Homo sapiens: one gene and its partners. The protein of the gene in region 1 interacts with the protein of each later gene in a pairwise test. Each region holds a gene or a part of one and is shown on either strand. Other genes may lie near its edges. The genes, in order: CUL4B, UBXN7 and ZMAT4.

Region 1 (3,656 bases):
ATCATGAAGAATCATGAAGAGCTTAATTGTAACATAGAATAGTGAGTTAAAAAATTAGGTAAGATGAGTAGGGCCTGATTGTGGAGAACCTGATAAGTCTAGCAAATGAAACCTACACTGTAGTGTCTCAACTATGTGGCATGGTGGAAGTAATTATTTGGACCACTTACTGAAATCAATCTACAGGGCAACTGGAAGGATCAAGGGATTCCAGTTTAGATGCTATTGGGATGATTCAGGCATAAAGTAGAAGGGACTTAGACTAGAATGAGACCATGAAAATGGAGAAAACTCATCTCTGCGGAAGCAGCGGCTAGCTATTATGTTGAGGATGAAGGAGAAGGAAAAGTTAAAAGATGATTTTAGGGTTTCCCAACTGAGAAGGTTAGTGGTATCACCACTGACAATTGGAAAGAGGACACAGTTATATGGAGATGATGAATCAAATTTTGGACGTAACTACAGTTGATAGTAAAACAGCCAGGCGGAATTGCCCTTTAAACGTGCAACTGGAGAGAAGTGAAATGTCATTTTGGAATATTTGGTAGTTGCCCACATGGTATGATAATTGACGTCTTTAAAAGAGGACTAGGGGCCGGGCGTGGTGGCTCACATCTGTAATCCCAGCACTTTGGGAGGCCAAGGCGGGTGGATCACTTGAGCTCAGGAGTTTGAGACCAGCCTGGGCAACATGGTGAAACCCCGCCTCTATTTTTTTTAAAAAAGAAGAGGACTAGGAAAAAAGCCATTGGCTAGAACAAAGAAAAGTTGTTGGTGACCTTTGGGAAAAAATGAAATAGTTTTAATAGGGGGATGGAGTGGAAGCTAGATTGAGGTAGAATGTCGTAGTTGTTCATGCTGGTAACAAATAACTAAACCTCTGTTTCTTCTTCAGAGGATGGAGAGTTAAGGAGAACACTGCAGTCATTAGCCTGTGGCAAAGCTAGAGTTCTGGCGAAAAATCCAAAGGGCAAAGACATTGAAGATGGTGACAAGTTCATTTGTAATGATGATTTCAAACATAAACTTTTCAGGATAAAGATCAATCAAATCCAGATGAAAGAAACGGTATTTCTTTCACTTTCTCTTAGTCCTAACACACTGGAATTATACATGTTAATAATCAAAATATATAAAGATTTTTATACCTGTAATACTGCCAATACCATTAATATTTTTTGTGTCTATGTCCAGCTAAATATGTTTCCTGATTTGATTTTGGGTGTTTGGGAGAGTGGTTGTACAGGATTGAGATGATACTCAACATAGTTTCATATCTTACTTTGTTTATTTAGTATTCAATCTTTAGAATTTTTCCATGCCATTAAATAGCTTCGAAAAATGGCAGATGGCAGTGTAATATTTTTACATGGCTCTTATAGTTTGTTCAACCACTGTTCATTTTGGGGCAATTAAATTCATGACTTATTAGTATTATAAATAAGATTGCAAGAAACCTCTTTGAAACTAAATTTTAATCTCTGATATATGATAAATTTGTGGAAGTAGATTTTTTTGGGTTAAAGGGTATGAACATTTTAGGAGTCTTAGTACATAATGTCATATTGTGTTCCGGAAAGGCTGGACCAGTTTATACTCTGTCCAGCAGCATATGAGAGCCTGTCTTACTATGTCCCCCAGCACTAAAGATTATATTTTCTTTTGCCAACTTGCTTGGTGAAAAATCTGAATTGATTTATTCACTATTTATTTGATTAACAGTGAAGGTGGGCCAGGTACGGTGGTTCACACCTGTAATCCCAGTACCTTGGGAGGCCGAGGCGGGCAGATCACCTGAGGTCAGGAGTTCAAAACCAGCTTGGCCAACATGGCGATACCCTGTCTCTACTAAAAATACAAAAATCAGCTGGGCGTGGTGGTGCGTGCTTGTAGTCCCAGCTACTTGGGAGGCTGAGGCATGAGAATCACCTGAACCCGGGATGTGGAGGTTGCAGTGAGCTGAGATCGCGCCACTGCACTGCAGCCTGGGTGACAGTGAGACTCTGTTTAAAAAAAAGAAAAAAAAAACAAAAACAGGGAAGGTGAATATTTTGTTTGTTTTTGCCATTTGAATTTGTAAGAGACTTCCAACTGCAGCATCCTGAAACTGATGGTTTCAGTTCCAATAAGGTTTAATGCAATATTTGAAAAAAAAAAAATTTTTTTTTTGAGGTGGAGTCTCACTCTGTCACCCAGGCTGGAGTCAGTGGCACGATCTTGGCTCACTGCAGCCTCCGCCTTCCAGGTTCAAGCGATTATCCTGCCTCAGCCTCCTGAGTAGCTGGGACTACATGCGTGAGCGACCATGCCCGGCTAATTTTTGTATTTTAAGTAGAGATGGGTTTTCACCATATTGACCAGGCAGGTCTTGAACTCCTGACCTCATGATCCGCCCATCTCGGCCTCCCAAAGTGCTGGAATTATAGGTGTGAGCCACTGAGCCCGACTGAAAAAATTTTAATGTAGGACAGCGACCAGTATCTCCAAACAAGTTCCTGTCATTTTCACATACACATCAAAGACAGGATATTTTCTTAAAGGATTACCATGTCCTTACTTTTAAAACATTTATGCTGTACCAGGAAGAAACTGCTGCAAAAAGGCCAAACTGTTTTTTTGGTTTAATTACTAAAGATGAACATTTTTACTTTAGCATCAAGATTGGTAAACCGCCTCCTAAATACCTACATTTCTGTAAGTCTTGAAGGATTGTAAGCACTAATGGCATGCATGTCTGATTTATATATTACAAAATAAAAATTAATTTTCAAAGAGGTTGACTCTTAACTAGTTTGCTTAGCCAGTTAATACCATGCCTTGAGTCAGAGATCAGACAGAGTCACCTTATAGACAAGCTATTGTCATAGAGAAATCTGGTTAACAATCCATTGAAACTGATACACACATTTAGAAGATATATCAAAGACAGAGTAAAAAAACAAAATGGTAAATTCCACATCAGCTATCTCTACTTCTAGAAAAGCAATTCAAAGATGATGTTTTTCTATTAACTAATATTAGCATTACTTCATTGGTATAGGGCAATATAATCAGAACAGAAAGGAGTTATGTTTGTAGGATTTTTCTCTGTCAGCATCTATATTTATAAGACCCCATTTAGATAATTCAGTACCTTTAAAGCAATAACAATGTCATGTCCCTAAAATGCACAATTTATGTAAATAGTCAGGTTTTGCTTCTGGTATAATTCCTAGGTTTAAAACTTTTTTGTTAGGTTGAAGAACAAGCAAGCACTACAGAAAGAGTATTTCAAGACAGACAGTATCAAATTGATGCTGCAATTGTTCGAATTATGAAGATGAGAAAGACACTTAGCCACAATCTCCTTGTTTCAGAAGTGTACAACCAGTTGAAATTTCCAGTAAAGGTAGGTACTTCTGTGTTTTCCTATTGAGCGTGTTATAAATAAAAGAAAGTACATTAGATTTTCAGACACAAATCTTGCAAACATAAAGCGTCATGACCATTTAGAGAGAGAAAAGTTTTAATTTCCCATGTTGATGCATATGATTTCCAAAAAAAAAAACTTTGTTGGCATATGTGGGCAGCAGTGACAAAAGGGAAAAATAACAGAAAAGCCTGGATACCTGAAAGTTTAACTGCTAAATGAGTGTTTGAAATTTTCAAGTTTATTC
Region 2 (3,656 bases), on another chromosome or scaffold:
TCTAGGATAAATTTATTCCAAAACTGTGGTTTCGTGTCACTGTTCTTTCCTAGGCAAAGATTTGAGGCAGCATTTGCTTATTTGCTTTTCTGCCATTGTTTTCCACTCAGCAGCATTTCATGGGTCTTTATGCTGACAAGGGACTGACAGGCAAAAAGTACGCACTAACGATTGATGTATCGATATCTGTTGTACGAATCGTAGAGTTGTTTGGGGATCATTCTCAAACATTCTTTGACCTTGTAATCCCAATTTTTGGAATCTACTCCTAGGAAGACAACTCTTAAGAGAAAAAACTCTCAGCAGTTTTTACTAAAATGTTTAGGGTGATTCTCCAAAACAGCATATATGCCTAATAACTGAGATTAATATGATGTTTAAAAATGTTCCAGAAATGATGTTGAAGAAAACAAAGTAAAATATACACACCAATTGCATTCATTAAAAAGAAGTATAATTGGCTGGGCGCGGTGGCTCACGCCTATAATCCCAGCACTTTGGGAGGCTGAGATGGGTGCGTCACCTGAGGTCAGGAGTTTGAGACCAGCCTGGCCAACATGGTGAAACCCCGTCTCTTTACTAAAAATATATAAAAAATTAGTCAGGCATGGTGGCACACACCTGTAATCCCAGCTACTCGGTAGGCTAAGGCAGAAGAATCACTTGAACCTAGTAGGTGGAGGTTGTAGTGAGCCGAGATCGTGCCATTGTTCTCCGACTTAGGCAACAAGAGCAAAGCTCGTCTCAAAAAAAAAAAAAATTGTTGATGGAGGTTGCAAGAGAATAAAATTACGTGACTTGTTGATCTTAAGTTTGTTGAATCCTTTTCAGGTAAAGATGTTTAAACATACATTAAAAATTCAGCCATTACCGGTCATGATGAGTCACACCTGTAATTCCAGCACTTTGGGAGGCCAAGGTGGACGGGTCATTTGAGGTCAGAAGTTCGAGACCAGCCTGGCCAACATGTTGATACCCCATCTCTACTAAAAATACAAAAATCAGCCAGGCGTGTTGGGGCACGCCTTTAATCCCAACTACTTGGGAGGCTGCGGCGGGAGAATCACTTGAACTCAGGAGGTGGAGGTTGCAGTGAGCCGAGACTGCCCCACTGTACTCTAGCCTGGGCAATAGAGTTAGACTCTGTCTCAAAAAAAAAAAAAAAAGAAAGAAAGAAAGAAAGGAGAGAGAGAGAGAGAGAGAGAGAGAATCAGCTATTATAACAAATAACTGGATAAAAGAGAAATGAGTTCATTTAAATTTGAGCAGTGCTTGAAATGGACAGTATAGCTATAAATGCATATGCGAAGTAAATATATAGAATGTATAAATGCTGAAAACTCTAGATGTCGTATCTGGCAAAAACTTAGTATTTTTAATGAAAGACAACAACCTCTGAACAACTACGGAAACATCTGTCACTAAGTAGAAATTATTTCTAACAAATGTGTAACTTTACTCTTGCAGGCCAAAGAGTGTGGCCAGATGCAAAATAAGTGGCTGATGATAAACATTCAAAATGTTCAAGACTTTGCATGTCAGTGCCTCAACCGCGATGTGTGGAGCAACGAAGCTGTGAAGAATATTATCCGGGAACATTTCATTTTCTGGCAGGTGAGAAGGAGAGTTAATCAGAAGTTTTGTAGAATTTTACTTTTGTAGTGTGGGTTGTTGAGGGAAAGGAATTGGGTTATAATGAATTAAGACATTTAAAAAAAGGTAAAGCCGGCTGGGGGCAGTAGCTCACGCCTATAATCCCAGCACTTTGGGAGGCTGAGGCCGGCGGATCACCTGAGGTCAGGAGTTTGAGACCAGCCTGGCCAACATGGTGAAACCCTGTCTCTCCTAAAAATACAAAAAATCAGCCAGGTGTGGCAGCAGGCACCTGTAATCCCAGCTACTCGGGAGGCTGAGGCAGGAGAATCACTTGAACCCGGGTAGCGGAGACTGCAGTGAGCCAAGATCACACCATTACACTCCAGCCTGAACAATAGAGCTAGACTCCATCTCAAACAAAACAAAACAAACAAACTGTACTGTTCAGTAGAAATATATTGTAAGCTGTACACATAATTTAAATTTTTCCAGTAGCCACATTAAAAAAGATTAATCAAAATAGATGAAATTAACTGTAATAATGTATTTGGTTAAATCAATATATCTATATAACTAATACAAAAATAATGAGATGATCTGCATTTATTTGGTGTTGAGTCTTCAAGATATGGTTTGTATTTTATACTTACACCCCTTCTCCATTTGGAGTAGCAAGATTTCAGGTGCTTCAGTAGCCACTTGTGGGTAGTGGTTGCTGTATTAGACAGTGCAGGTATAGAAGATCTTGAGGTAATTGGAAGCATTTGGCTAAGACTTAGATTTTAGCTTGAGTTTGATACTTTTTAACTCTGTGTTCTTAGACATGTCACTTTAGTCTTCCCAGCTAATGAGATAAGGTTACAGACCTTGTATCATTTTTCCCCCACTGTGAGACAGGGTTTTGCTCTGTCACCCAGGCTGCAATGCAGTGGCATGAACATGGCTCAGCCTTGACCTCCTGGGCTCAAATGATCCTTCCACCTCAGTTTCTTGAGTAGTTGGGACCACAAACATGCACCACTATGCCCATATAATTTTTTTTTTTTTTTTTTTTTTGTAGAGATGGGGTCCTGCCATATTGCCCAGGCTCGTCTCGAACTCCTGGGCCCAAGCCATCTGCTTCCCTTGGCTTCCCAAAGTGCTGGGATTATAGGCATGAATCACCGTGCCGGCTCAATTTTTTTATTTTTTATTTTGTGAAAAGTTATAGAAAATAAAAACTTATGAAGGAGCTTAATTTTTTCCCCTACTGTAAGATATGCTATTAATGTTATTAATTTGCCTGTTTATATTTTACAGGCCCCTAAATTTAATGTAACTTTAATGGTAAAATTCCTTGTATTTTATTCAACAAATATTGATCGAGCAGCTCTTTGCTTAGCACTGTGCTGGACTCTTGAGCTTATAATCTTTTTTTCTTTCTTTCTTTTCTTTTCTTTTTTCTTTTTTTTTTTAAATAAATGGACAGGGTCTTGCTCTGTCACCCAGGCCGGAACACAGTGGTGCAGTCATAGCTCACTGCAGGCTCTAACCCCTATAGGCTCAAGGGATCTTCCCACCTCAGTCTCCTGAGTTGCTGGGACTATAGGTGCACACCATTAAACCTGGCTAATTTAAAAACAAACAAACAAACAAAAAAAAACAAAAAAACTTCTCGTGGAGATGCCCAGGCTGGTCTCAAACTCCTGGCCTCAAGCTGTCCTCTGCCTCTGCCCTACAAAGTGCTAGGGTTATAGGTGCGAGCCACCATGTGGAGCCATAATCTTTTTTTTTTTTTTTTTTTTTTGAGACAAGTCTTGCATTGTCGCTGGGCAGGAGTGCAGTGGCACGATCTCAGCTCACTGCAGTCTCTGCCTCCCGGGTTCAAGCGATTCCCCTGCTTCAGTCTCCCGAGTAGCTGGGACTACAAGCGCCTGTCACCAGGCCCGGCTAATTTTTGTATTTTAGTAGAGACGGGGTTTCACCATGTTGGCCAGGATGGTCTCAATCTCCTGACCTTGTGATCCACTCGCCTCGGCCTCCTAAAGTGCTGGGATTACAGGCGTGAGCCACCATGCCTG
Region 3 (3,656 bases), on another chromosome or scaffold:
CACCATATTGGCCAGGCCGGTGTTGAACTCCTGACCTCAGGCAATCTGCCCACCTCAGCCTCCCATTCAGCATCTTTTTTTTCTTTTTTAAACACTGCTACTCTACAAAAGCATTTGGTAAAGAAGGCAGTTAAAGATAAAGCAGAAGGAAAACAATCTGGTTCATGAATGTGCCTTTGGTCTGAAAAGCAGTCAATAAAAATATGAAAATAAACACTTTGAAACAAAGGAGATTATAAAAATTAAACTAAAGCAAGCCTTCTGCTCATTTCCTTTCTTGTCCATTTCTTTTGGGTGAGCCTCACTTTTTCCTTAATAATTAAAGCAAGAAGAAGAATCATTCCGATTTGTGAAAGCCGCATCTTTTCTCTGAAAGCCCAGTTTTGTGGCAGAAGTGAGAAGAGCTGCCCTTACCTCTCAGTTCCCCCATATCCAGGGTTGTCCCCAGTTGTTCTAACAAAGCAACTCTTGCCGCATTCTTTTTGTGTTTCTTGCCATCATAATGTTGCTGGGCCATCAGAGGGTTATTAAACCAGGCTGCACAGAGCCCACAGTATCTGTCTGAATCTCTTCTTTGATAGGGAGATGCGACCACCGGAGCAGTGTCCATCCGTGGGGGCTTAAGTGGGCTCAGGGGTGTTGCTGTGAAAGGAAACAACCAGAGAACCACAGCCACGTTAGTCCAACACTGAGTCCACTCTTCCTCAATACCCGAAGACCAAAAGTCTCCTGTTCACTCTAGAGCTTAAACATCCCCAAGAGTTCATTGACAGCAGGAAAATTAGCCCTGCCAGCTTTCATTTTTGAGTTGGGACACAAATAAAAATTCTTAATGTATTGAGATCAGAGTTTGCATGTCGTTATACCAAAATCTGATAATTCAAGAGACCATCCCTTAGGGGAATAATAAGATTTTTAAAAATAAATTCTCAGTTATTCCCACTGTGGCTCTCAGGAGCTATGGACAGTAGCTCTAAGTATTTGGCTGCCTGGAGTAGCTTTGAAAACACGGTTATTGAAGGCCTTTCCCACTCACTTTTAAAATGCATTCTGCTCTAACATTGGCATTTAGAGAAAAAAAATGTAGTAAAATACAGGGGACAAGCTCAATGAGCCAGGTAAAACTTGAGCAATAACTTAATTTTTCTAGCATCACTAATAATGCAATAAGCCTATTGTAATTGCCTTCAATTATTTTTGTGTGTGTATAACACTAAAAATAAATATTGGATAAAATGCAACTAAATAAATAAATTCTTAGAGGTAAGGGAGTGATCTATCAGTCAAAATAAAGCTAATACTTGAAGTAAACATTGGACAGTCATGACTTAAAAGATTCCGAATGAATGAATTGGACGTTTGTGTGCTATAAATGTAATTAACCAATAAATAAAGGATTTGGCTAAGTGGTAGAAACTGATCTTTTGGTGACATGGGTTGCATTAATTGAGGAAGTCATGCTAATTTTATTGTCAGCTGCTTCAGTTTATTGTAATAGGCTGTTTTCAACCTCTACCTGCTCACGTTGATGCTGAAATAACAATGTTTTTTTAAAAATCAAAAGAAAAATACTATAGATCAGGTGTACTTATCTAAACAGAATAGACATGTATCACTATTTTGAGATTGCATTGTTCCACCTATTAAATTAACACATTTTACTGTGAGCTTAGGATTATTTCTGGTCCAGAAAACAAACAAACAAAAAAGAGCCTAACTTGAAGGAGCTTACTAATGGAAAGTAAAAATAACTTTTCTATGTATTACAACATACAAGTTGCTTCCATCCTTACAAGGACTATGACTTGGCCTTTTATCCCATTTCTCAGATGAGAGATTGATTTCAGAAATGCCAGTGGCTTACTGAAGGTGAGATATCTAGTGATGGGAAAAACAGGACTAAAATGAAATCTGGAATTCCCAAAGCCAATGTTCCCTTCAATACTTTCCCAAGGATCCTTTTCATACTTCTTAATAAGCTAAGGGACTTTTTTTCTAGATCCATCATCTTTCTATTTCATATAGGATTTCATTAAATTTTGGAAAAAATATTCCGATCCAAATATTTTGGAGAAGAAATCAGTATGTAAATTCTCACATGGGCCATTAGTCCTAAAGCAGTATAGCAGCATCCTGTGTGTGTTCTTGGTCTCTGAGATGTAGGATGCAGCTGGCAAAACCACGAGCATTAGGGTTGTCGTTCCAAGGAAAAGCTGAGGTCCGAGACCTCAATAACAAGTTAAGGAACCAATTAACCAACACCCCAAGCTTTCAGGTAACTTTTAGGTGGACTTTTTTTTTGATTAAATAACTTATATAGAAACAAATACTTGTTAAGTGACATTTTAATTCAAGTAATGCCTGTATCATAACAGTATTTCTAAGAAGCTCTTTTTTCTTTATCCAGAGATTTCATTATATCGAGAAGTTTTAGCTAGTTTAGATTAAACTTAATGGTGTTATTTTTACAGGGACTCACAAACAGTACGCCCCTTAAAAGACTCATTGTGGGATTTGGTCATGTTATCACCATGTAGAAATAAAGCTCAAATGTGGGCCATTCCAGCAGCCACCCAGTATCATTCTGCTATGACTTAGAAATAAAAGCTACAAATATGCAGTTGACCTGGATGTGAAAAGATCTCTATCCACTTTTCTGAAGGTAATTGAATCTCACTTTCAAAGCTTCCCAAATCCTTATCAATTTCTGAGGATTTATAATTAGCTATTGTTTTTGATGGCAATGGAAAACATATCAAATGTCTACAATATGAATAAATGTTGACTCTTGAAGCATAATTTATTTTTCTTTAAAGTAAGCCCTATAAAACATTTTAGTCGATTTTATCAACTGATACCTTCTACACCATATCCTGGTAGGAGTGAGGCACAATAGAATATTCATCAAATAAGATAATCTTATCTTGCACATAAGAAAGTAATTTGATGTAGCTTCTCCCTCTGAATAATTCCACTATCTTGTGTATAGTCTGAAAGTTTAAAGGATTTTTTTTTTTTTTTTGCTTCTGTTGTAACTGTCTTCACTCATTTCAACCCAGCTTATATTCCTTTAGTGCCTATAAAAGCAGGCAAAGGCAGTAGCATAAAAACAGCCTTGAATCAAAGACAGAACTCTGGTTGGGTGGGACTCCACTATCAGTGAGCTGTGTGACCTTTGGCAAATTTCTAACGTCCCTGGTTTCCTCAAGGTAAAAATTCAGACACACCATCTCTTTTAAAATTAACATACTTTGCAGCTAACCCATAGGGTGTGGACAGAACAAATTGTGGAAGCTCTGTCCCTTCTACAGCTTTGATTCAATACCAAATATAGAAATTATGTGGGAGGAGAGCAGTTTCCAGGTTTTAATGATAAATCTGTGTGTGTACATGAACCCTAACACTTACATGCTTTGGCAGAGTGTATTATTCCAATAAAATGAATGAAGAATGGGGCAAAGATTATCTTTTGGTTTAAAAACATGCTTTAAAAAACACTTTAGTTGACATGTAGTTAATTTCTATTTTGATTTCATAGTTTGTTTTTATTCTAATTGCAAAAAATATTAACTAAATATTTACTTTACCTGCCCTTTATATAGATTCAACCAAAAGTCAATTAATCGAAACCAGTAATTTCAACATTAAACTCACCA

The links.
Region 2: the proteins of CUL4B (region 1) and UBXN7 interact in binary tests that used the Homo sapiens proteins (3 or more experiments, as listed by UniProt).
Region 3: the proteins of CUL4B (region 1) and ZMAT4 interact in binary tests that used the Homo sapiens proteins (3 or more experiments, as listed by UniProt).

The regions. Positions count from the first base shown.
Region 1 is NC_000023.11:120,529,834-120,533,489, reverse strand, and holds part of CUL4B (cullin-4B), read left to right. Parts: intron 1-895; coding exon 896-1,068; intron 1,069-3,235; coding exon 3,236-3,388; intron 3,389-3,656.
Region 2 is NC_000003.12:196,369,854-196,373,509, reverse strand, and holds part of UBXN7 (UBX domain-containing protein 7), read left to right. Parts: intron 1-1,467; coding exon 1,468-1,614; intron 1,615-3,656. UniProt on the Homo sapiens protein: Ubiquitin-binding adapter that links a subset of NEDD8-associated cullin ring ligases (CRLs) to the segregase VCP/p97, to regulate turnover of their ubiquitination substrates.
Region 3 is NC_000008.11:40,674,290-40,677,945, forward strand, and holds part of ZMAT4 (zinc finger matrin-type protein 4), read right to left. Parts: intron 643-3,656; coding exon 415-642; intron 1-414.